3 separate regions of the Homo sapiens genome follow, and regions 2 and 3 are each linked to region 1. Evidence: fine-mapped expression QTL. A gene starts in region 1. Each other region holds a variant in brackets. All regions are shown on one strand. Distances are between the middles of the regions. Region 1 holds the start of ANO10 (anoctamin 10). Region 2 overlaps ANO10 (anoctamin 10). Region 3 overlaps LOC107986081 (a long non-coding RNA gene).

Evidence for each region. PIP is the estimated chance that this variant, and not a neighbour inherited with it, causes the effect. A credible set is the group of variants that fine-mapping cannot tell apart.
Region 2: its variant is the best candidate, but not a certain one, in a credible set for the expression of ANO10 in whole blood (TOPMed, PIP 0.70).
Region 3: its variant is the best candidate, but not a certain one, in a credible set for the expression of ANO10 in whole blood (TOPMed, PIP 0.88).

What each region holds. Positions count from the first base shown.
Region 1 is chr3:43,616,994-43,625,179 of GRCh38, forward strand. It overlaps ANO10 (anoctamin 10), which reads right to left and starts at 5,018. Exons shown (of 13, transcript NM_018075.5): 1 at 4,916-5,018. RefSeq lists a silencer at 4,732-5,231 and enhancers at 5,287-5,939, 5,940-6,592.
Region 2 is chr3:43,573,128-43,581,313 of GRCh38, forward strand. It overlaps ANO10 (anoctamin 10), which reads right to left. Exons shown (of 13, transcript NM_018075.5): 5 at 7,226-7,345; 6 at 3,565-4,134; 7 at 1,682-1,737. Among named protein-coding and RNA genes, the nearest start is that of ANO10, 45 kb to the right of the region's middle. The variant C/T (reference allele first, on the strand shown) is at 3,145.
Region 3 is chr3:43,894,103-43,902,288 of GRCh38, forward strand. The region is part of intron 1 of LOC107986081 (a long non-coding RNA gene); the gene reads right to left. Among named protein-coding and RNA genes, the nearest start is that of ABHD5, 210 kb to the left of the region's middle. The variant G/C (reference allele first, on the strand shown) is at 3,113.

The sequences.
Region 1 (8,186 bases):
TTGCTCCAGTCTCTCTTCTCTAATTAGCTGGCTCAATGACGTAAATATCAAGTGTAAGGTGTAAAGCGGTGGAAACAAGAAGCCTCATGGCAGCCTTGGCCTAAACTGAGTTCTGGAATCTACTTTTACCAGAGGGTCTTAATGGGAACTTGCTCTACCATTACCAAGCATACGAGATGAAAAAATGGAAACAAAATACCAGACAGGGACATGAAGGCTTTAAGTCTTCCTGCAGGTGTAGCACAAACCTTATGGTTCCAGTTGGGGCCAATCTAAAAACAATGATTTGACCATACAGACTTCCTGGGCACCAGAGGGTAGAATGATTTCTGTATTGCAGCCAATATCCTCCTTTGATCGGGACTCTCAGCCAGGACAGCAGCCAGGCTGATTATAAGGCACAGAGCAGCCAGGTTCCACACAGACCCTGGGGCGTGGGATTATGAGACAGCGATCCCAAATTGTGTTCTTTATCATGTGTCGAATTGCACACAGGGTCAAAGAGAGACCTACAAATAAGTTAAATTCATGTGGCTTTTACATTAACAACTGGATCACTGGCCCACAAGAGGTAAAGTCTGACCATTGTGGTCAAGATGTAGAGAAACACACTGTGAGTTCACCATGGAGAGGTCAGGGGAGTGTGTGGAGAGTGGGGAGTTATTTTAACAAGGATCAGGAAAAGAATAATGGATTCTTTATTCTGGGGATTATTCTTTTCCTGAATTTGGGTAAAGAAAAAAAAAGTCAATGGAATTATCACAAACTCAAAGGTTAAGAAGGAAATGCATAACACTGTCTTCAGGAATCACCTTATTCCAGATTCAAAGAGAAACAGGAACGAAAAGTATTCTCAGTTATGAAGCAGATTAGGAAACACTTCAGTAAGAGAAAAATGAAGGACCGCACTGCTCAAGCTGGAAGATGAGAGGAATCTCCATAGGACAAAAGTTGCAATTTTAATGGCCAGGCTAAAAGAGGGCCAGGCCAACTCCAGAGGACCCGAGATGCAGAGACACTACTTACCTACAGGCAGGCAGTTAATGGTGAGAGCAATTGTGGGAGCCTCCCTCCTTGTACCTAGGGCAGCTGCCTTGGGGAGTTACACAGATGTAGACAGACGTGAGAATGGAGAATCAGCCCCGCATACACCCATCCTTACTATAACAGTTTCTCAGTAACACAGATAACTTAGGGAAGCTGGTGAGGACCACTCCCTGAGGGAACTCCATGCCCTTAAGATTCCACAGGAAGGTACAGGAGAGGTGAGACACAGGATACTGAAGACAGTCCTGCCACAACAGCCCAGGCCGGATTAGATGCTGCACTAACCTCTGCACACAATCACTCAACTGAGTCTAGCCATGGAAGCACCAGTGAGGAAAACAAGAATATTTCCTCCTCTCACTCATGCCTCCATCTACTCTCATTACCCCAGATACTGCCAAGAGTTTGCTTGTTTTGGCTAGAATAATGTCAGAAATATACTGTGGCATCTCAGTAGAAATGCTCTAGAGGCTGTGAGGTGGCCCTGGGCTGAAGAAGTTCCCAAGACACAGACCTTTAAAACTGGGACAAGTTGATCACACTTGGTAAAGAGTAAAGGCCATTACTCTTTCCTCCAAAAGACCCAGGGACTGGAGTCAGCATCTGGCACTCTGTTTTTGAAAGATTCCCACTGCCAATTCATAGACTAATAAAAGAGATAATAAGCATGGATTACTCAGATCATGCTTTCTAGTCTGTAACTCCCAGAAGATTTAGAAATGGCATATAAAAGTAATTAAAAGGCACCTTATTAGTTATACGTCTTTTTTTTTTTCTTTGAGGCAGAGTCTCGCTCTGTCGCCCAGGCTGGAGTGCAGTGGAGCAATCTCTGCTCACTGCAAGCTCCGCCTCCCGGGTTCACGCCATTCTCCTGCCTCAGCCTCCCGAGTAGCTGGAACTACAGGCATCCGCCACCATGCTCGGCTAATTTTTTTTTGTATTTTTAGTGGAGACGGGGTTTCACCGTGTTAGCCAAGATGGTCTTGATCTCCTGACCTCGTGATCCGCCTGCCTCGGCCTCCCAAAGTGCTGGGATTACAGGCGTGAGCCACCGTGCCCAGCTATGGTTATACATCTTAATCAAACAGTAGTCTATTCATATAGAAAAGGAAGATAAATATCCCCTTCTAAGGGATAGGTTTTGGATATGAATTCAGGGGAGGTGTGTGCTTTCTAGCAGGCCTGCTTCACTTTACAGGTCTGCACCAGGTCATCCTGTTTAGGAGGATGCTCAGGTTAAAAGAGGCTAAGGACATATGACGACTAAATACAGTGTAGGATCTCAGACTGGATCCTAAATATTAGTGGGACAATTAGTGAAATTTGAATAAGGTCTGTAGATTACACTAATAGAATTGTATCAATGTCAATTTTCTGGTTTCAACAATTGCACCATCGTCATCTAAGATGTTCACATCTGGGGAAGCTAGGTGAAGGGCATAAGGAAATTTGTACTATTTTTGCAACTTTTTGTAAATCTAAAATTATTTCAAAACAAGAAACTTTTTAAAAAGAGCCTCTTCCAGGGGCTGGGCACAGTAGCTGAGGCTTGTAATCCCAGCACTTTGGGAGTCCATGGGGGGTGGATCTATTGAGCTCAGGAGTTCAAGACCAGCCTGGGCAACATGGCGAAACCCTGTCTCTACAATAAATACAAAAAAAAAGAAAAAAAAAATTAGCTGGATACGGTGAAGCTCTCGCCTGTAGTCCCAGCTACCCAGGAGGCTGAGATGGGAGGATCACCTGACCCCAGAGGTCAAGGCTGCAGTGAGCTGTGACTGCACCACTGCACGCACTGCAGTTTGGGCAACAGAGTGAGACCTTGTCCAAAAAAAAAAAAAAAAAAAATCCTCTTCCACCCAAAATTCCGTAATTTCCTAACACATACACACAAAAACTCATACACATTAAAAATAACAGTTTTGGATTCACACATGACATGAGATTTATTGTGAGCTTTTAACCATTAAAACAAAGGTTTACTGCTTATAAAAACAGAAGGCTAGAGACAATTTAACTGACAGATGAGAAAAAGGCTTAGTACAGCTCTCATGCAAGCCATGACAAATATATCCATTTGAGGAACACTGATTTTTCACCTCCAAGCACAGTACTAGGCACATAACTAAAACTCTAATATTTAAAAAAAGAATGAATCCACATGATGAATGATTATACAAGCATTTTCAAAGATGTTTAAGAAGAATTTGATCCACAAAAATGCTAAGTGAGAAAATGTAAGGTGGAAAGAAAAAGCAAAAGTATGAAGTAATATAACAATATTACCCCAATTAGGTAACAATACTACCCTAATTTTGTGTACATTCATATACACAAAAATACAAAAATTAGGAAGAAATGCATCAAAATGTTATTACATGTGGCAAAACTACAGATTTTAATTTTCATCCTTATAATTTTCTCTGTCTTCCAAGTTGTCTACAATGAAAAAAGTTGGCCAGCACAGTGGCTCACGTCTGTAATCCCAGCACTTTGGGAGGCCGAGGTGGGAGGATTACCTGAGGTCAGGAGTTCAAGACCAGCCTGGCCAACATGGTGGAACCCCATCTCTACTAAAAACACAAAAATTAGCCGGGCATGGTGGCAGGCGCCTATAATCCCAGCTACTCGGGAGAATCGCTTGAACCCGAGAGGCGGAGGTTGCAGTGAGCAGACATTGTGCCACTGCACTCCAGCCTGAGCGACAGAGCAAGACTCCGTCTCAAAAAAAACAAAAAGAAAAAAGTTTCAGTGGGTTTAAGTGCATTTACACACTTCAATTTATCAAGACTTTTCTATGCCCTTCCATTATTTTAGATCTTTCAAATTTCATTCATCTGCAACTCTACGATTCTTTCAGCAACAGCTGTTCAGAACAGATGATTTACTTTCCATAGCGAATTTTAAACTGTTTATCATGCAGAATGGGCCCTTAGAAAACATCTAGTCCTCTAGATTTGTATGACTTTAAATTAAAAGTAGACACTACAAAGTGGATTTAACCGCTTTAAACCCCACAGGATTAGATTTAAACTCCGCAGGATTTAAGGCAATATGATACAACTGTGTCTTGAGTCTGAATAAACCTCAGCTGCACTTTTTAAGTCTGGGATCTCCATACACCGTCCTGCTGGAATATAAGGTTTTACAGAAGGCAGCGCACACCAATGCTGGTGCTGTGAAGGCACCCACAAAATCAGACGCTGCCTATAGGGGAGAACCCCATTCCATCCACGTTTCTCAGGTGTCCCAGGCACTAGCCAGACAGGTATCTATTATTTAAACTGTACAGTATGTCCCAGTCAAAAGCCTGGAAACTCAGTCACCTCGATGTGAGCATTATCCTGCAAGCCCGCTCCGGCCAAACCTGCTTGGAGACAGCCTAGTCCGCCCTGATCCCCGGACTGCCCGGGAAGCAAGAACCCCGGGACCCGCGAGCTGACCCTTCTAAAAACCACCCTTCACTCCGCTCCGCCGACCACCCCACTCACTGCCTCCTTCCCCAAAGCGCTGAGGCCCCCAACATCCTCCATCCTGACTTCACCAGCCCCAAATTTCCGCCTCACCGCCTTTCTCTCAGGACTCAAACCCTCGCCCCAGACCCATAATCCCCTCCACAAACCTCTCCCCTCCCCTGCGACCGCCGCTCCCCGCAACACCTTCACTCGTCCCTGCCCCCACAGCCCCCGCGCCCATCCTGGTCCCACTTCCCATCCCCAGGGGTGCTGGCACCGGGAGGCGGCCCGGGAACGCAGGGCGGCGACCAGGCGGAGCTCCTGGAGCCTGCAGCGGCCGGGGCTCTGTGGCTGCAAGGGGCCGGGCTCTGCTGCGGACAGCTGGGGGGTCCGAGGTGCCCTCCCCGACTCACCAGCCGCCGCAGCGCTCCACGTCTTCGGAGGCGGGTCCGAGAGCCGGCGAGAACCGGAGGCCGGGCGAAAGAGTGCTCGGTGCGGGGGGCGGGCCAGGCCAGTGGGGCGGGCGCCGCCGAGCGCTGGGCGTGGCGGACGCGGCGGGGCCTAGATGCGGTCACACGCAGGGGGGCGGGGCCGCGGCGGGAGAGGCGGGGCCTCACTGGGCGGTAGCTCCGGGAGGGGCGGAACTGCGGTGGGAGGGGCGGGGCCTCACTGGGCGATCGTAGTGGACGAGAACCTAGACTGGAACCGGTCCGAAGAAAAAAAGGCAGCCCTCATTGGGCTGTCGCCTGGAACAGGAGACCAGGCCGGGAGAAAGGGAGGGGCGTGCCTAACGTACTGTACCACCCATCGAAATCCGGACGGCAGCGGGAGAGGCGCGGCCGAGAAGGCAGAGGCCTGGTTGGGCTGTCACTCCGAGCCGGGGCGGCATGTGGCTGGGCTCTCCAACCGCGAGCGGTCGGGGCAGGGGAAAGGAATACGCCCCTTCACATTTCCCTCTTCCATCTCTTAAAGACCAGAACCTAATTTTCTGGTCACTTTCAGGTATAAGAACAAGTCTCATTTTAACTGTAGCTCACTTTCAAGTTGTGAAAAACGCAGATCCTTTTATAATTAAAACCTAACATCCAACCACAGCCAAATCCCAAAACCCTTGCTCCTCCTAGAAATCGCCAGACACCTTTCCACCTCCAGGCTCAGAGTCTGCCCCAGCCATTCCTTCTGCCCAGAAAGCTCTTCCCTCGGTTGGCTGCTTGGCTCACTTCCTCACCTCCCTCAGTGTTTGCTGGGCTCTCACTTTCTCCCTGAGGCCCTTTCTGACCATCCTACTTAATACCTGTTCTCATCTGCTCCTCACCCCACCATTTCCTTACCTGCTCTCCTATTTCTTCTGTCCACCACACTTTTTGACTTTTTGTTGTTGTTGTTTTGAGATAGAGCCTCGCAATGTCACCCAGGCTGGAGTGCAGTGGCGCAGTCTCGGCTCACTGCAACCTCCGCCTCCCGGGTTCAAGCGATTCTCCTGCCTCAGCCTCCTGAGTAGCTGGGATTACAGGCGCGCACCATCATGCCCAGCTAATTTTTGTATTTTTTGTAGAGACAGGGTTTCACTATGTTGGCCAGGCTGGTCTAGAACTCCTGACCTCAGGTGATCCGCCTGCCTCGGTTTCCCAAAGTGCTGGGATTACAGGCGTGAGCCACCGCGCCCTGCCGGCTTTAAGTGTTTTTAGTTACCCAGGGTCTACCACAGTCTGAAAATAGGTGAGGCCAGAACAATAAGATATTTGGAGAGAGAGAGAGAGACCATATTCACCTTTTATTACAGTCTATTTTTATAATTGTTCTATTTTATTATTATTCATTGTTGTTAATCCCTTACTGTACCTAATTTATAAATGAAACTTTATCATAGTATGTATGTATGTGTAGGAAAAAACATAGTATACATAGAGTTTTATACTATCCTCAGTTTCAAGCATCCACTGTGGATCTTGGAATGTATCTCCCACAGATAATGGAGGATTACCAGCCCCAATGTTTAGAACAGTGTTAGGTCCATAGCAGACAAGCAATAATTCTGAAATGAAAAATTTAAAAAATGAATGAACACTTTCTGCCTCCATACATCCAGCTTTGGCCAGATCAATGCCTCAACAAACTGCAGTGCGGAGAAGGCTGGTCTGTTCTTTACTCCCCACCCTTCTCTGGGTCTTCCAGGTTCCAGGCAGGAGGCAGGGAAACTAAAAGAAAGGAGCAGAAGACTCGTTACTTGGTAGGAGCAGTTTGTCATTCTTTCTAGTCCTCCGATGCTATCATGGCAGCTCACAACATTATTAACCAGTTTTTGTGCAGCTATCTTTTTGTAGGTCCTGTGTGGTTATGTTCAGAAGTTCTCTCTTTCTTCTGAAAATCAGGACAAATTATTTATGAACTTCAATAAGTTTAGACATGAATTACTCCTTAGACTTTTGTTTTTAAATTGTACTCTTCTTATCTTCTCATCCTAGAACGCACGGCCATCCTCCATATAATTTCATTTTCTTATATTTATGTGGCTGGAGGAATTAGGAAGAAAAATGAATGGAAATATAAAAGTCATTTTCTCTTGTATAATCTTATTTCATCTCCACAATTAACAAATTAAAACTTTCTGTTAAGTATAGCAAATTGTTGGACAGCATAAATGGCAAACCTGAGTTAATGACATAGATCCCTATATAGTAGTCCCCCTTAGCCACATTTCAATACCCCCACTGGATGCCTGAAACCACAGATAGTACTGAACCCTGTATATATTATGTTTTTTCGACCTGATAGCCTAGATGGCTGCTAAGTGACCAAAAGGTATGTAGCATTGATATAGTTTGGATCTGTGTCCTCACTTAAATCTCATGCTGAATTGTAATCTCCAGTATTGGGGGTGGGGCCTGGTGCAAGGTGATTGGATCATGGGGGTAGATTTCTCATGAATGGTTTAGCACCATCCCCTTGGTGCTGTCCTCGAAATAGTGAGAGACTTTTCACAAGATCTGGCTGTTTAAAAGTGTGTGGCATCTTGCTCTCTCTCTGTTGCTCCTGCTCTCGCCATGTGATATGCCTGCTCCCCCTTTGCTGTCTGCCATGATTTTAAGTTTCCTGAGGCCTTCCCAGAAGCCAAGCAGATGCCAGCATCATGCTTCCTGTACAGCCTGAAAAACCAGAGCCAATTAAACCTCTTTGCTTTATAAATTACCCAGTCTCAGTTATTTCTTTATAGCAATATGAGAATGGACTAATACAAGGACCTACAGTATGGACACACCAGACAAAGAGATGATTCACATCGCAGGAGGGATGGAGTAGGACAGGCGGAGATTTCATCACGATACTCAGAATGGCACACAATTTAAAACTTATGCAATGTTTATTTCTGGAATTTTCCATGCAATGTTTTCTGACCTCAGTTGACTGAAGGTAATTGAAACCATGGAAAGAGAAACTGTGGCTAAGGAGAACTACTGTATCAATTACCTATGACTGCATGTCAAACAATTACACAGAATTAGGGATTCCTTTCTCCACTTGTCTCTCTTTGGGTATTTCCTCCATGTTCTCTCTGGCTTCCAAGAGTCCCTTTTCCCAACTCCTCTGTCCAGAAGGACAGGTTTTCTCTCAGGTGACTGTGTCACCATACCACTGCAGGGCAGCTCCCAGACAGGGAATGGCTTCAGGGAAACGGAGGGAGAG
Region 2 (8,186 bases), 44 kb before region 1:
TATAACCTTTTCGAATGAACTTTTTAATGTATCCCATATTCCTTTACTTTCTTACACAGAGGGCACAGAACAGAACTTCCTAGCTGATTTAGCACCAACATTTTAAGTATCAGCCATTTCACGGTGTGAAGGAGGCCTTCGAAGCCTTTTGGATATGTAGGGCTACTTTTCCCTTTCCTATTGCCCAATTGTTGAATTCTTATCTCTTATGACAGCTTTTCATTTCCTTACCTGTTCTTTCTCTGTAGGTTTGCCTACTTCCAGAAATCTAAACACCCTCATGATGGTGATTTCTGATTTTTTAAGGACCGAAAAACCAGATAGATAAACTTCTTAGAATGATTTCTACAGCTAGAACAGAGATTCTAAAAGAGGGCCTGCATCCTTCTCTTGGGAGTAAAGTACACGGACTGTGTTAAATCAATTCCAGTTGAAAGTTCAGATGATTCTTCAGGTAACTTTCTTGATTCTCACTTATGTTACAGATGACTGAGGTAAACCCCCGATAAATGAGGTGTTTTCAAGCTGGTACTTCTTTATTATTTATAATAATGGTAGAAAGAGGCACGACATGTCAGCTTTTAACAAACAGCAAGCAGGTTACATACTGCTTTCTCTCTGTCTCTTTCCTCCCACCTGTCAAAACATGCTGGGAACCTTTTGAACTTTGGAAATCTAACAAAAAAAATTTTTTTTAATGTAATATTCCATCACTAAACAGGTTGTGGTGACAGGAAGGATTGCTAAATAGCAAAACATTCAAAGAAATCACCAAAAGGAAAAGAATAGAAACATATCTAAAAAGTGGGTTAGTTTTGTTGTTATTGTTGTTGTTTTTGTTTTTTGAGACAGGGTCTCGCTCTGTCACCCAGGCTGGAGTGCAGTGGTGCAATCTCGGCTCACTGCAACCCCCGCCTCCTGGGTTCAAGCGATTCTCCTGCCTCAGTCACCCCAGTAGCTGGGATTACAGGTGCCACCATACCCGGTGAATTTTTTTTGTATTTTATGGTAGAGACAGGTTTTCACTGTGCTAGCCAGGCTGGTCTCAAACTCCCGGCCTCAAGTGATCCACCTGCCTCAAGCTTCCCAAAGTGCTGGGATTACAGGCATGTGCTACCGTGTCTGGCCCGTTAGTTTCCTTTCTTTCTTTTTTTTTTTTTTGAGACAGAGTCTCGCTCTGTCACCCAAGCTGGAGTGCAATGGTACCATCTTGGCTCACTGCAACCTCCACCTCCTGAGTTCAAGCGATTCTCCTGCCTCAGCTTCCCAAGTAGCTGGGATTACAGGCCTGCGTCATCATAGCCAGCTAATTTTTCTATTTTTAGTAGAGACAGGGTTTCACCATGTTGGCCAGGCTGGTCTCGAACTCTTGATCCACCAGCATAGGCCTTCCAAAGTGCTGAGATTACAGGTATGAACCACCACACCTGGCCTAGTTTTTAAATAACTGGAAATTGGCTATAATACTAACTCCTATATTTTGAAGTCTTACATCACATGCACATTTGTAATAAGGCTACTGAACACAGAGGTACACATATTTATTAATCAATCCTTGCCTATTTGCACAAAATATATTGATATCTTAGATTAGAAGCAACTCTTCATATTTGTATTCCTATATATTATGTAGTATATACCAGTTTCATAAAATGGATTTGTACATAAACGCTGTACTTACCACTAAAACTTTCAGAATTAGATGGTTCTGATAGGCAGATTCCAATCTGTGATTCTCTAAAACATTAAAACACACAGGTAACTTCTCAGTAAGAAAACAATACGAAAGCACTGTTATGAGGTAAAGTGAGTTGCATTGAGGGCGGAGATGTCCAACATCAGAGCCTCAGTCAGTAAATGTACTAGGCTGTCAATCACAGCTATGCCTTACCACCAAGAGCATCAAACAGGGACACATTTTTCAGGGTACTGCAATAGCACTGTAGTCTGAAATTATTTTTTAAATTACTGCTACAAAGAAATTTGGGAAGTGCTGGCAAACAATCCTACAGACAGCCACCCAAAGACCCTGTATAAGAAGTAATAGTGAAAACTAATAATAGTAACCTCTAGAGAAGAGGGCAATAAATAAAGTTTTCTGTAAATAAAGTTCTGTAAGTAAAGTTTCATGTGGCTTACAAGGGTTAACTTGAAAGGAAACTCAAATTTCTATCTTCACCTAGAAAAGGTAATACTGCATAGATCCCAAAACAGCAAGATAAAATGACAAAAAGGAAGATTCTGAAGAGAAGTGTCATCTTACACATAGAGTGTTGGACTGACCTATATTTGAACACCAACTCAGCTACTCAGCCACTGCCTAACCTTGGGTAAGTTACTTAACCTCCTGATACTCAGCCTTATTCCCTCAAAACAAGGCTGACCATCTTCCTCCCAGGGTCACTCTCAGGATCAGAAATAATATAAAACTTTAGCCTAGTATTAGCACAAGGAAAGTACTTGATAAATGACAGCTGATATTGTCATACAACTAATAAAAATAATTTAAATCATCTTTTTTTTTTTGTGAGACGGAGTCTTGCTCTGTCGCCCAGACTAGACTGCAGTGGCACGATCTCGGCTCACTGCAACCTCTGCCTCCTGGATTCAAGTGATTCTCCTGCCTCAGCCTCCTGAGTAGTTGGGACTACAGGCGTGTGCCACCACGCCCAGCTAAATTTTTTTATTTTTAGTAGAGACGGGGTTTCACCATATTGGCCAGGCTGGTCTCGAACTCCTGAACTTGTGATCTGCCCACCTCAGCCTCCCAAAGTGCTGGGATTCCAGGCGTGAGCCACTGCGTCTGGCCCCTAAAACATATTTATGTCCCATAAAGTTAAGGCTTTGACTTCTTCCTAGGGAATAATATAGCGAATTTGTTCATTGGTTTGAATGAATAAATAAAGAGTCAATGGCCTATCAAGACCATTTTCAACTTATAACCAAGTTCCTTTTTTACCACAGATACATCCATAAACACCTGCCTTCAATGAACTCAACAGCAGTCCTCAGTGCCTCACACCAACTAGACACTCCATTTTAGGAAACTGGTCATAGTTGATTCAGCTGAGTATCATGAAGACATTTTTTTTTTCTTTCTTCTGTGGCTCTAGCCAGTGAAACAATTTCAATCTATTTTACCCT[C/T]GGCATGAAACACAATGTTATGTATTAGGAGCACAAGCTTTGGAAAGATAGGTCTGAATTAGTCTAGCTCCACTATTTGCTGTCTGAACCTCATTAAGCATCAGTTATCTTTATCCATAAAAGGGTGAAATAACTTCTACTTCACGGTACCCTTGAGAAGGTGATGGTGAGATACTGTGAATAAAGTGCTTAGCAGGGCACCTAGAACATAGTAATTAACACATAATAAATGAGAGTTACGATAACCATGGCATGGAGATCATCAGTGTTCACAAAGCTGATAAATTTTTCCTTATGTCTCTATAATGAGCCAAGAGCAACATCTATTTTCTCTGCAAGGTAGCAGCTATGTGAATCCCATGATCTAGGCAACATTTCTTACAGGCAAGTAAGACGTGAATATAAAGCCTCAAGTCTTACCCCATGAAGTTAAAAACTCGGCAGCATATCGATAGAGACGATTCATGATCTCAATCACAATGGCATAGATGATGCTGGGCACATACAACAGGACACTGGTCCACTCAGACCCGCTGTTCTCATGTAGACCCAAGGCCCAAACCTCCATGTCGAAGTAAATCATCATGACATACAGTGAGAAATAGAGGCAGAGGCACACGAATGGCAGGGAGACCAGGTAAATGCGCAACTGTCTCTTGTAGCTGGGGTACAGAGGCTCCTCCTTCCCAGTGATGGAATTGATACCCAAGACACCATGAAATCCTGGCCGGGGCTCCTCAAACTTTCTCTTCATGAGCAGTGTCCCCCACCTGTAGGTCATGTTGGCACAGCCACGCTTCCACAGTTCCAGAATCACCGTGGACCAGATGAGGTTGAACGAGGCAAAGATCACGTACTTGTCATAGTCTTCCCACACAAACAAGTAGTAAGGTAACCCAATGACAGCCATGGGGATTAATGCAAAAGTGAAATACTCCAAAAATCCAAAGTACAGAGCAATTGTTTCCCCAAAGTAGCCACGAATACTGTCTATAGTGGAAACAAAGAAAGAACATAAGTATAGACTACCAAACACTTTAAAAAATCATTTCAAGTACGCTTATTCATTTTTTAGTTAAGTGGGGATCATTCAACCCTCACTTCCCAAACAGCGTGTGGTGGTAAATCTACCCTCCATGCAGTATAAAGACCCTGCTTGTCTGCATGGCAGGTCCAACATTTCCCCCAGGTTAGGGGCCAGGCCTTAGCTGGGGGGTGTGCTCCGCCAGGTGCCTGGACTCTGTTTCCCCTCACCTGATGGATACCTTCTTCCCAAAGGAAAACTCATCTTGTAGCTTACCCAAAATCTCCAAGGTCCTAATTTAAGTTCAGCCATGTCCACTGAACATTAATTTGGGGGTTTAATTTATGCTCCCCACTTTTCTCCCACTTAGTGTTATAAATGTTCTTTTTGACGAAGACTCCCCATCCACAAAATTCTGCTCTTCCCTACCCAGAGACATAAACTTTCATCAATGTGTTATGGAAGATTTTTCAATACACTAAAGAAAAATTATTCAAAAGCACAAAACAGGATTCTACACATAAACTTCCAGAACAGCCATGGAACACATTTATCAACACTTTCATATATGCACTGGGCAGAAGAAGGTCCAAGCAACATGACTGCTAATGTTCTGTGAACTCAACACAAGCTAAATGACTCTAGAGGGGTCACCAACACTGCATCCTTTGCCAGCCTCATCCACATGGGGAGTGCTTGGATCATAAGAGCATCTTGTACCAGGACCAGGGTGGGAAGCAGGGGGTGAGAGGAAGTGTGACAGTTGGTGTTATTATTTCTTAGTTAATAATACACAGTTAACATATTTTTCTTAAGATAATTTGAGCAGTCTACAAAAATGAGTTAGAATGAACTGAGATAGGCTATTTTCTCCTATCCTTAATTCTTCCCCCTAACCCAAGAGCAAATGAAAACAGTAGGTATGATTTCACCTCAAATTTAAATCAGGTTAAAGAACATCCGATCATTTCTTTTTAAAAGATGCTCATGACACTTGGCTCCACAGCAGATGACCTTCCCCTTTCAATCTCAAGGAGCCTCAAGATCCACCTATGTCCCAGATGCTATCACCAGTCTCAGTCCCCAGCGACCCCAAATCCACTACCACCCCATGCCTAGCCTTCACCATCGACTCACTTTCTCCCCTTACTTTCTAAGAAGTAGCTAACAGAGGCCGGGAGCAGTGGCTCACACCTATAATCCCAGCACTTTGGGAGGCCAAGGCGGGCGAATCACCTGAGGTCAGGAGTTCAAGACCAGCCTGGCCAACATGGGGAAACCCCGTCTCTACCAAAAATACAAAAATTAGCCGGGCATGGTGGTGTGTACCTGTAGTCCCAGCTACTCAGGAGGCTGAGGCAGGAAAATCACTTGAACCTGGGAAGTGGAGATTGCAGTGAACTGAGATCACACCATTGCACTCCGGCATGGGCCACAGAGCAAGACTCCATCTCAAAAAAAAAAAAAAAAAAAAAAAAAAAAAGGAGTAGCTAACAGATAGTCACTTTACAAGTCCTAGAGGCAATATTCAAATTTCCTGCCACTTAAATGCCAAAACAAAGTTAAACAGTTGTTAAGTGTAATATAAAATGACTATTGTATGACCTGGAATTAACAATAACAAAACTTTTCCTTTCAGAGAATATAAACAAAATTCAAAATGTAATTTAGGGTTTGATCTTACAACAATTTTTGTTTGGTAAAACATTATATAATAGTTGTTTTCAGAAATAGAAAACAGAAAGAAAATTATTTTAGGATACCATTAAACAAAACCAAAAGGAAAATGTCCTTTAAAGAAAAAAAAATGATAGTAATGCAAAGGTGAAATCTACCAGCTTAAAAAACATAACCAGACTAAAATATTTGAACATCCATATTGACAAAATTTTAAATAATGTCCAGCACATACCAAATAAATTAATAATTATTCTTATAATTATATTCAAAGAAAATTGACAGATCCAGTAATGCATGCCAAGGTAATTACAAATCACCTCAAAAGATGTTTGGCCTGCTAGTTGCCCTAAGTGTGGCATAGCTTGTTTCATTCTAAATAACTGGCTCCTCAAAAATAGAAATTTTCAAATACAAAATAGTCATTTATAGTCAAACTAAATTCTTATTAAAACTTGTCTGAGGCTGGGCACGGTGGCTCACACCTGTAATTCCAGCACTTTGGGAGGCCAAGGTGGGTGGATCACCTAAGGTCAGGAGTTCGAAACTAGCCTGGCCAACATGGTGAAACCCCATCTCTACCAAAAATACAAAAAATTAGCCAGGCATGGTGGCACATGCCTGTAATCCCAGCTACATGGGAGGCTGAGGCAGGAGAATTGCTTCAACCTGGGAGGTGGAGGTTGCAGTGAGGTGAGATTGTACCATTGCACTCTAGCCTGGGCAACAAGAGTGAAACTCCATCTCAAAACAAAAACTAAAACAAAAACAAAAAAACTTGTTTGGTTCCAACTCTGACACACATTCAGGAAGGCCACTCTGAACTGTCTGTGTTGTTGGTGAAGGGTAGTAAAAGCCTGTGATTCCACTGATCTATGGTAGTATTAGAACATCAAAAAATGCAAGGCACAATAGCTCAGACCCATAATCCCAACACTTTGGGAGCCCAAGGCACAAGGATCGCTTGAGCATGAGTTCAAGATCAGCCTGAGCAACACGGCAAAACCCCGTCTTTACAAAAAATTAGCTGGGGATGGTGGTGCACGCCTGTGATCTCAGCTACTCAGAAGGCTGAGATGGGAGGATTGATTAAGTCTGGAAGGTCAAGGCTGCAGTAAGCTGTGATCATCCCACTGCACTCCAGCCTGTGACATAGTGAGACCCTATCTCAAAAAAAAAAAAAAAAAAGTTTAAAAAAAGAAAAAAGGGGTCATCTAACCTATCTTATTCCCTCCATCAAAATGTTTTCCCACATGTAGCTGGTGATCCCTGCCCAGTAGAGCACTAAATATCTGCCCAAGGGAGCTGACTCCACTGCTAGATCGTAACTTTTCATCAGAGGCCTTCCTCTTCTTTAAGAGAACAAGTACTGACACATACCTATGGGCTGATACTTCAAAGCAAACCGAGTGTACCAGGTGTCCTCAAGCTTCTTCAGGGCTTCACTGTCATGCAGTGGAAACACCTGAATCACGATGCCAGACGTGAGCAATCTTCTCACTGCACAGGGAAAATGTGCCAAACTGCATGAAATGGACTGGAGATTGTGCATGATACGCTTCAGCAAATACTATAAGGACACTCCACAGAGGAGTACAACGCAAAGGTCAATGTCATACTGCCTACTCCAAACCTGTATATTCTTTCATTTTTCAGAATGTAAATATCTTTACTATTCTCTTTGACTATGAAGCAAAAAAGTAAATATAAAATTTTAAACCATATAGAAGTGTAAAAATTAAGACTATGAGAGGCCCGTTAGTCTCTCTTTCCCCTTGAAAATAACCACTGTAAAAAGCAATATAGTGTATAACCAGACATAAAAATATATCCATATATATTTTAAGAACAAAAATAAAATCATTTTATACACACTATGTTGTTTCATAATCTTTTCTCATGTAGTAGTATACAGTGAATATTTTTTGATGCCAGTAAAAATAGAATATGAAATGTCCTTTTAACAATACCATAATATTCCCTTGTATGAAATGCTGTAATTCAACTAATCTTCTATTTAAAAATATGTTTCCTTTTGCTATTGTAAATAATGCTAAAATTTGTACAAATACCTTTCCCTACCTGTCTACTATTTCCTTAGTAAATATACTTAGAGGGGGAACTGCTAGGTCCAAGGGCATAGTATTTTAATATTTGATACATATTATAAAATTGTCTCCAGAAAAAATTTACCAATCTGTCCTTCCACTACAGTGAAGGTAAGAAAATGTTCAGTTCTTTTCATTCTTGTTGATACAGAGTATTTTCAATCCTTTTCATCTCTTCTAATCTGATAACAAAAGCTTACACTCACAAATAGCAAATAACAAAATCAAATTAA
Region 3 (8,186 bases), 280 kb after region 1:
CTGGAGCCAGACTGTCTGAGTTCAAAGGCTCCTAATAGCTGGGCTCCTTAACCTCTCTGTGCCTCACTTCCTCGTCCGGAAATTGAAGCTAATAAGAGCACTGACTTCCCTGGGCGGCGGTTGAAGGCTACCTGTGTGGATCTGGGCACAGCGAAGAGCGGAGCCTTAACAGGGTGAGCACGCCGGTTGCGCGCTCTCCAGAGCAGCCCAGCATCTCCCGCCAGCCTCGCTGCCCGCTCCGCCCCGGCGCAGGGGCCCCAAGCCCACAGGCAACGCCAGCGCGCTCCCAACCGCTGGAGACAGAAACAATGTGCGCGCGCACACGGCCCACGTGCACGCGCGCACGCCCACGCGGCATACAGGCGCGCACGTGCACACGCGCGCCTGCACAGCTCTGCGGCTCTGCTCCGGCCCCACAGGCCCATCTTAAAGTGTTTCGTGCTCTAACTTACCAAACACGTGGCAGCCGGCAGAACGAAAAGGAAAATAAATGAACTGCGACGAAATAAAGCAGGCCTTTCCGCAGTCGGCCACGTCCAACAGCCACTTGGTTCCTAGCGCTTTCTCGTTACCCGGCTTGGGCAAAGCCAGGGAAGAAGGGGATAGGACATAGGGATGGGTTAACAAAGCGGGAGCAACAGACCAAAGTAACCTCCTTGTATTGCCCCCCACCCCTCATCCCCTGGGGACACCGGCCTGGCTCCCGTGGGACCAGCATCGCCATCCCTGTCCCCTGTACGAGACTCTCCGCTGGGCCGAGGGCCGGGCTTGTGTTTGGGAAGGTGGGTGCCAGGGCCCGTGCTCAGCGACCTTCCAGAGCAACTGCATCAAATGATGCTGGCTTTCTTCCCAGCCAGTCCCCAGCCACACCCATAGGGGACAGCAGTGGCAGCCCGGGACTCTATTTCCTGCCTACCCCTGGACAGGAAAGCCACCCGCAGGCGCCTTCACCTTGGTCCACGTCTCACTCGGATGATTCAACAAGGCTCTTTGGGAAAAAAAATTGAATTCGCCATTGAGAACACACATAAGAAACCAATAATCATTTTTGGTTTTTATGATGGAAACAGGCACAAAAATCACAATTTTATATAGGTTCAAGACTGCTTCCTCTCAGCAGCCCAGAGCTCTTTAAAGTAAAAATAAAAATAATCTTTCAGGTTTTTTTCTTGTGTATCTTATGGAATGTATATTAAAGTCCTGAATGCTAAAACTCCATTGAAATTTTATTTGGTTGGTGCAAAAGTAATTGCAGTTTTTGCCTTTTTTTAAAAAATTAAATTACTTCTGCACCAACCTAAGTAGTCTTCATTATCAAGTGAATTTCACCAACTGAACAGACTTTGAAAGAAATAGACACAAAAGGAAAAATCAGCAAACACGAATATTAAAAGTCTACTATTTAGTAGCTACTGATCCTGTTTGAAATCAATTCCTCTCTTTTTCTTCATACTGTCTCCTGGCCTCCCATATACTAGAGTTTTATAGACAACGTGGTCGCCCTCTGGAGCTGATTTGACCCCACTCCTCTTTTGGCAAAATTTTTATTTGCATTTCCCTTGTGCTCCCAACAGGTCTGTATATTAACAACATGCCTCGTTTTTGGCACAACAGCCTCATTAATTATGTCAGCAAAGAGCTGGCACTAGGGCTCCTCAGTGCCTGGTAATTCCCATTTCCTCACTGCTGGCTTTGCTGCCTCTGAACCACCAACCATCAGCAGCCCTCATTTTCCCTCTGCCTTCCCAGCCCCCTTCCTCACCTCCATTCTCCACGCCCCTCTTCCTTGCCCACTTCCCAATACTGCAAAGAACAGAACATGAGGTCCCAGAAGAATGACCCAGCAGAACTCTACTGGTTTTATTAATATGATTATTACTTGGCCTGAAAGTGGTAGATTTCCTGGATCCATATCCCAAGTCCTTCTGGCCCTCTTTGATAAGCTTTTAATGTTGATGATGATAACAATGGTTATCATTTATTGAGTCTTTACTATGCACCAGCCCCTGTGCTTAAAAAAAAAGATTACCTCCTGTAATCCCTAAAACAGCTCTAGAGACAGCTAGCATCATTAATACCATTTGACAGATTAGAAAACTGAGGCTCAGAGACTTAAGGTCACAGGACCAGAACTGGAAGGGCTAAGGTTGGACTTAAATGTGTCTACTGTCACCACTGCACGTCAGGACATTAGGTGGTCTCTTCTCTCACAACATGAAGCAATGCTAGCAAAAAGTGGCTAGGCGCTCAAGAGGTGTGAAACTTGGAAGTTACTCTAAAATGTTAAATGGCAGATAGTGCAGTGGCCTTACAAAATATCAGAAAAGCCATCTTTAAGAGTGTCAGTTTGTCAAAACAAATTATTGTCAAAACAAGCACAACAAGGAAAAACTGATTATGTTTTGTTTTGCTTTGTTTTCAGTTTCTCAAGCTTGCAGTAAAATGCTGAGATTCTGGCCAGTAATTTCCCCTTCAGACCTAACCTGCCTTGCCCAATGACTAGGTAAGTAGGACACAAGCAGTTGTATTCTCATATATTACACCTAATTTTACACCATTGGCCAGACTACCACTTTCCCTTCCCAACTGCATTTGGTATCTGGGTCGACATCCCAGGGAAAGACTTTTAAAGAACTCAAGGCTCACCTCCCACCCCCGAAGACCTGCAGTGGCTGCCATATGGAAACAACTCCGTGGTCATTAGGAGTCCCTTGACTAATATGAGTTCTCAGCCATTTTTCAAAACATTTTAAAGTGTTGATTTTATACCAGGCACTAGACCCAGGCACTGTGGATAAATAAGTGTGGTCTGTATTCTAATTTCACTTAAAAATTAATGTTTTAAAATACATTTGAACAGCTGACTCATGGGACAGAGAGAAACCAGGGATGCAGGACAATTCATATCACGTTTAAGAAAGCTAATAGCAGAAAGGATCCAAATGCATTCTGAAAAAAGAAGAGACATTAAGGACCGGATTTTTTCATTGTTTACCAAAAATGAAGAGATCTTCTCAGGAATGCATAGGACAGGTTTCTTGTCCATGCCACAGGGCAAGGCAAATGGTTTATCATAGCAGCTAAATTACATTATTTTCAAAAGTTACCAAAA[G/C]AGTACATGCTTGATATGAAAAATTCAAGCCCTATAGAAACATTAAAAGGTAGTAGCCCTTTTACAGTATTAAAAGCAATAGCCCTTTCACAGTCTCCCCGGCTACAATTTCATTCTAGGGATAACTACTGTGAACAGTTTAGTGTTGAATCAAAGGAGTCTAGGCTTCTTTCCTGAATACGACAGAAAAAAAATATCCTAAGGAACATGACCCAGAGGAAAACTGAGTTCACAGAACTTATGGAGTCTCAGCTACTGGGTTTCAAGATCCTTACTAGTGGGGTAGCTTATTCATGCCTGATCCTTGACTTCTGTTATCTGCATCGTAAAAAAAAAAAAAAAAAAAAAAAAAAAAAAGCCTAAGATGGATAACATTTGCATGTGATTATCCAGGACTCAATGACAGTCAACAGGCAAACTACCATTCCATCCTCTGGGTAAGGCATTCCAGGTTCTGGTTAGAGGCCAAATGTGCTCATCTGGCTGCTGCCACAGTCAAGCCTTAGCCAACGTTATTGTCTTTATGTTAAATTAACTCATCACATTAGTGATGTACAGAATCTTGGGTAATGGAACAGGTACAATTTAAGGCAAGAGGAAGAAAGTCAGGCTGATGAATCAATATCTTGGGTGAGGCACTGGAATAGGGGCTTTGGGAAGCTGGGGCTCTGGGCAGCTGACGTTCTGGAGAGGGTCTAAAAAGGAAAAAATGGGAACATGGCTCAAGAGATGGGCTAGGTTTAGACCATAACTTCACTCACTTTTCACTTTTCCTTGGAGCACATCAGTATAATATGAAGTTAGATTTGGGTTAGTTTCCATCAGTTTACATCAGCACAGATTTAACAAAGGACTCCACACATTCTGCTCCAGAAAGTTGACCTTGAAGGCTAGAGGGAGGAGGAATAGCCACAGCTGCCACCAGGCTTCCTGATAGCCATTCTGCCGTGCATGGTCCATCATAGAAGGAGACTACATGCCCCAGCCTCCCTTGTTCAGTGTGGCCACCTAACCCTATTCTGCTGCAAGGTAATTCGTGCAAGGGGTGTGTGCAGTGTCCCTGGAGTGTCCTTTATTTTAGGCTGGCTTCCCCAGAAAGAGATACTAACACAAAAACTTGAGTACAAGTTGTTTGTCTGGGAGGTGATTCCAGGAAGTATTAGTAGGAGAGTGGGGGAAATGTGTTAGTGTGAGTCTTCTGAGAAGTAGTTGCCAAGGTGGGATTACACATGAAAGGATTTTATTAGGGTAACTATCAACGTGAGGGAGAATGGGGAGGGAGCCACATGAGGCTCAGAGATCTCTCATACCTCCAGCCAAGTCTGACCCTGAGTGAAAGAGGTGGGGAAAGAATGTCTTAGACTGCCAGGCTGTCTATGGAAGGGTCAGCGAAGCCATCATGGAACCCTGGAGCCAAAGCCAGTGTTAGAGGAGCCCCACATCTCCTAGAACAACCTGCATTCGAGTGTCCCTGCTGTGCTCAGTCACTGACAGGGAGCAGCCCTTGGGAAGCATGTCCTTCGGCTTCCTAGTGCAGCAATTGCCAGGCCCTTGGTTACCAATACTCCCTCTAATTGGAGGCAGGACTGCTAGGCACATTCTCATGGGCACTATAGGAAATGAGGTAGGAGAGGGAAGCAGGCATCAGAGTGCACTGGTGAGCAGGTGACCACTGCGGGCAGCCGAGGTGCAGTCCTGGTTACCTCTAGGAGACTAGCATCTTCCCCACTTGAAGGGCACAGAAGGTGAGAAATAAACTCCCAATCTCTGGAAACCACTGATTTGTTGGCCTTCCCTATTGCCGCTACAGTCTTAATTAGCACAGGGGTTCAATACCAAGCGTGAATGTGTTAGAGATACCTTTATTTATTTATTTATTTATTTATTTAAGACAGAGTTTCGCTCCTTGTTGCCCAGGCTAGAGTGCAGTGGCACAATCTTGGCTTACTGCAACCTCTGTCTCCCGGGTTCAAATGATTCTCCTGCCTCAGCCTCCTGAGTAGCTGGGATTGCAGGCGAGCGCCACCACGCCCTGCTAATTTTTGTGTTTTTAGTAGAAACGGGGTTTCACCATGTTGGCCAGGCTGGTCTTGAACTCCTGACCTCAGGTGATCCACCTGCCTCGGCCTCCCAAAGTGCTGGGATTACAGGGTTGAGCCACCATGCCCGGCCTAGAGATACCTTTTAAACTTCATTTTGGTAAGGCATTTCCACTTGCTCTTCCCAGGAACCTTTTTGCCAAAGCTGCTAACAAACTGAATGTATAACTGATCTAAATTATGTTTCTCCACACTCCTCTCCCACCTCCTGCTTCCCTACCTGCTACAGAATCAGAAATGTGTGTTAGCCCCCAAAGTGAGGAACACAGAGCAAGGGATTCTGTGTAAAACCATGCAGAAGAATCCATCCCCTCTCCTCTCCCCCTTCCCATAAGGACATACCACCAAGTCTCTGATTATAACCATTTCTCTTCTTTACAACTCTATATAAAAACTTATGCCCCTCCCCTCAAAAAAAAAAAAAAAAGGACTAGATGGAAATACACCAAAGCAATACCTGGCTTTAATAAGGTGGTTGAATTACAAATATTTTCCTTTTATTTCTTTTAATGATTTTCCATAATGAAATGTGATTTTTACCTTTTAAAATTAAATGTTTACATTAAACTATTTTTTTCTACTTTATGCTTAAAATTTTTCATAATAAAAATTATGTTTTAAAATTTCAGAGCAATTTTACCTCTTATCCTTCTGTATTATTTCAGCTCAGACTGCTTTAACGAAGTGCCGTAGATCAGACAGCTTTTAAACCACAGAAATTCCTTTCTTTTTTTTTTTTTTTTTTTTTTGAGGTCATTTCTCTGCCAAGTAAAGTCCAGACTAGGTATTCCTACTGGGTGGGCAGCTTCCCTCCACATGGTGACTGGGGATCCATGCTCCTGCTCCTTCCATCTTGAACTCTGAAAGTGGCACAAACACTTCCACTCATATTCTGTTGGCTGTAGTTGTCACATGGACATGGAGAACTGCAAGGGAACCTGGGGGAATGTGGTCCTGTGGTATTCCCAGGGAAAAGAGGATAGTTTTGATGACCAGCTAGTTAGTTTCTGCTACAGAAAGTGACATAATTAGAAGAATGTAAACTCAGACCAGATTTCATTTGCCAGCATACCCTTAGGAGAGACCCTTCCATCATCACCCCTTAGATTCAATGAACTGCTCAGCCAGGGAAAAACAAGGTTTGCCATCTGCCCCAAGATCACAAGTGAACTAACAATCACCAAGGATTTAGAGAAGATGATATGTTTGTGTTCTGGCATCAGGAAGAATGAGGGGGTGAAGGGAAGGCCAGAGAGCAGAGGATATTAAGGTAGCAAAGGTGGGAAGGTGTTATAGACTGAATGTTTGTGCCTTCCTTAAATTCATGTGTTGAAATCCTAACACCCAACATGATGGTATTAGGAGGTAGGGCCTTTGTTATGTGATTAGGTCTTGAGGATGAGGCCTTCATAAATGAGATTAGTGCCCTTATAAAAGAAACTTCAGAGAACTCCCTCACCCCTGTTGCCATATGAGGCTACAGCTAGAAGATGGCCACCTGGGGACCAGGAAGCAGGCCCTCACCGGACACCAAGTCTGCTGGCACCTTGATCTTGGACTTCCCAGCTTCCAGAGCTGTGAGAAATACATTTCTGGGCTGGGCGCAGTGGCTCACGCCTGTAATCCCAGCACTTTGGGAGGCCAAGGCGGGTGGATCACCAGGTCAGGAGATTGAGACCATCCTGGCTATATAGTGAAACCCTGTCTCTACTAAAAACACAAAAAATTAGCCAAGCGTCATGGTGGGTGCCTGTAATCCCAGCTACTCAGGAGGCTGACGCAGGAGAATGGCATGAACCTGGGAGGCAGAGCTTGCAGCGAGCCAAGATTGTGCCACTGCACTCCAGCCTGGGCAACAGAGTTCACTTGTGATCTTGGGGCAGATGGCAAACCTTGTTTTTTCCTGGCTGAGCAGTTCATTGAATCTAAGGGGTGATGATGGAAGGGTCTCTCCTAAGGGTATGCTGGCAAATGAAATCTGGTCTGAGTTTACATTCTTCTAATTATGTCACTTTCTGTAGCAGAAACTAACTAGCTGGTCATCAAAACTATCCTCTTTTCCCTGGGAATACCACAGGACCACATTCCCCCAGGTTCCCTTGCAGTTCACCATGTCCATGTGACAACTACAGCCAACAGAATATGAGTGGAAGTGTTTGTGCCACTTTCAGAGTTCAAGATGGAAGGAGCAGGAGCATGGATCCCCAGTCACCATGTGGAGGGAAGCTGCCCACCCAGTAGGAATACCTAGTCTGGACTTTACTTGGCAGAGAAATGACCTTCAATTGTATTGAGCCACAAAAATGCTGGGGCTTGTTTGTTACAGCAGTGAGCCTACACTAACCAATAATACACTGTTAATCTTTCATGTCTGCTAGACGTGCTTAGTAATGGTGCTCTGAATTCATGTAATTAGAAGTAAATTTGACTGCAGAGATCAAGGAAGCTCCCCTTTTTGGAGGACTTGCAACCTGAGCAATTTTGTAATCATACTACAATAGGGAGGTATTGCCCTTGATGTTTCCCATGAAATCTCATAGGATTTTCCAGATAACTGTATCTTTCCTCAATGGAAGCAGTTTTAGACAGGGAGCCTAGATTCTCTGCCCCTAATTATCAGCAGAATGATGCATGAATCACCCAACCCCTATAAGCCTCAGAAATTATACAATCATTTTAGAGATGGACAATACCAACGGTTGTAACAACTAACTGTGGCTGAGTTACAGGTAGGGTTAATCCATTAATAGACTAACTCATTTAATCTGCACAGGCACCAGTGATGTGGGTGATATTATCATTATTTTGAAAATAAGAGAAACTGAGGCACAGAGAGATTAAAACACTGCCCAAGGCCACAGCTAGTAAATATCATAATGAAATGTAATGGGCAATGTAACTCTAGGGTCAGAAAGTAAATTCTCTGGATTCTAAAATGCTGAGATTTGCACCAGGATGATTTTTTTCTGTGATCG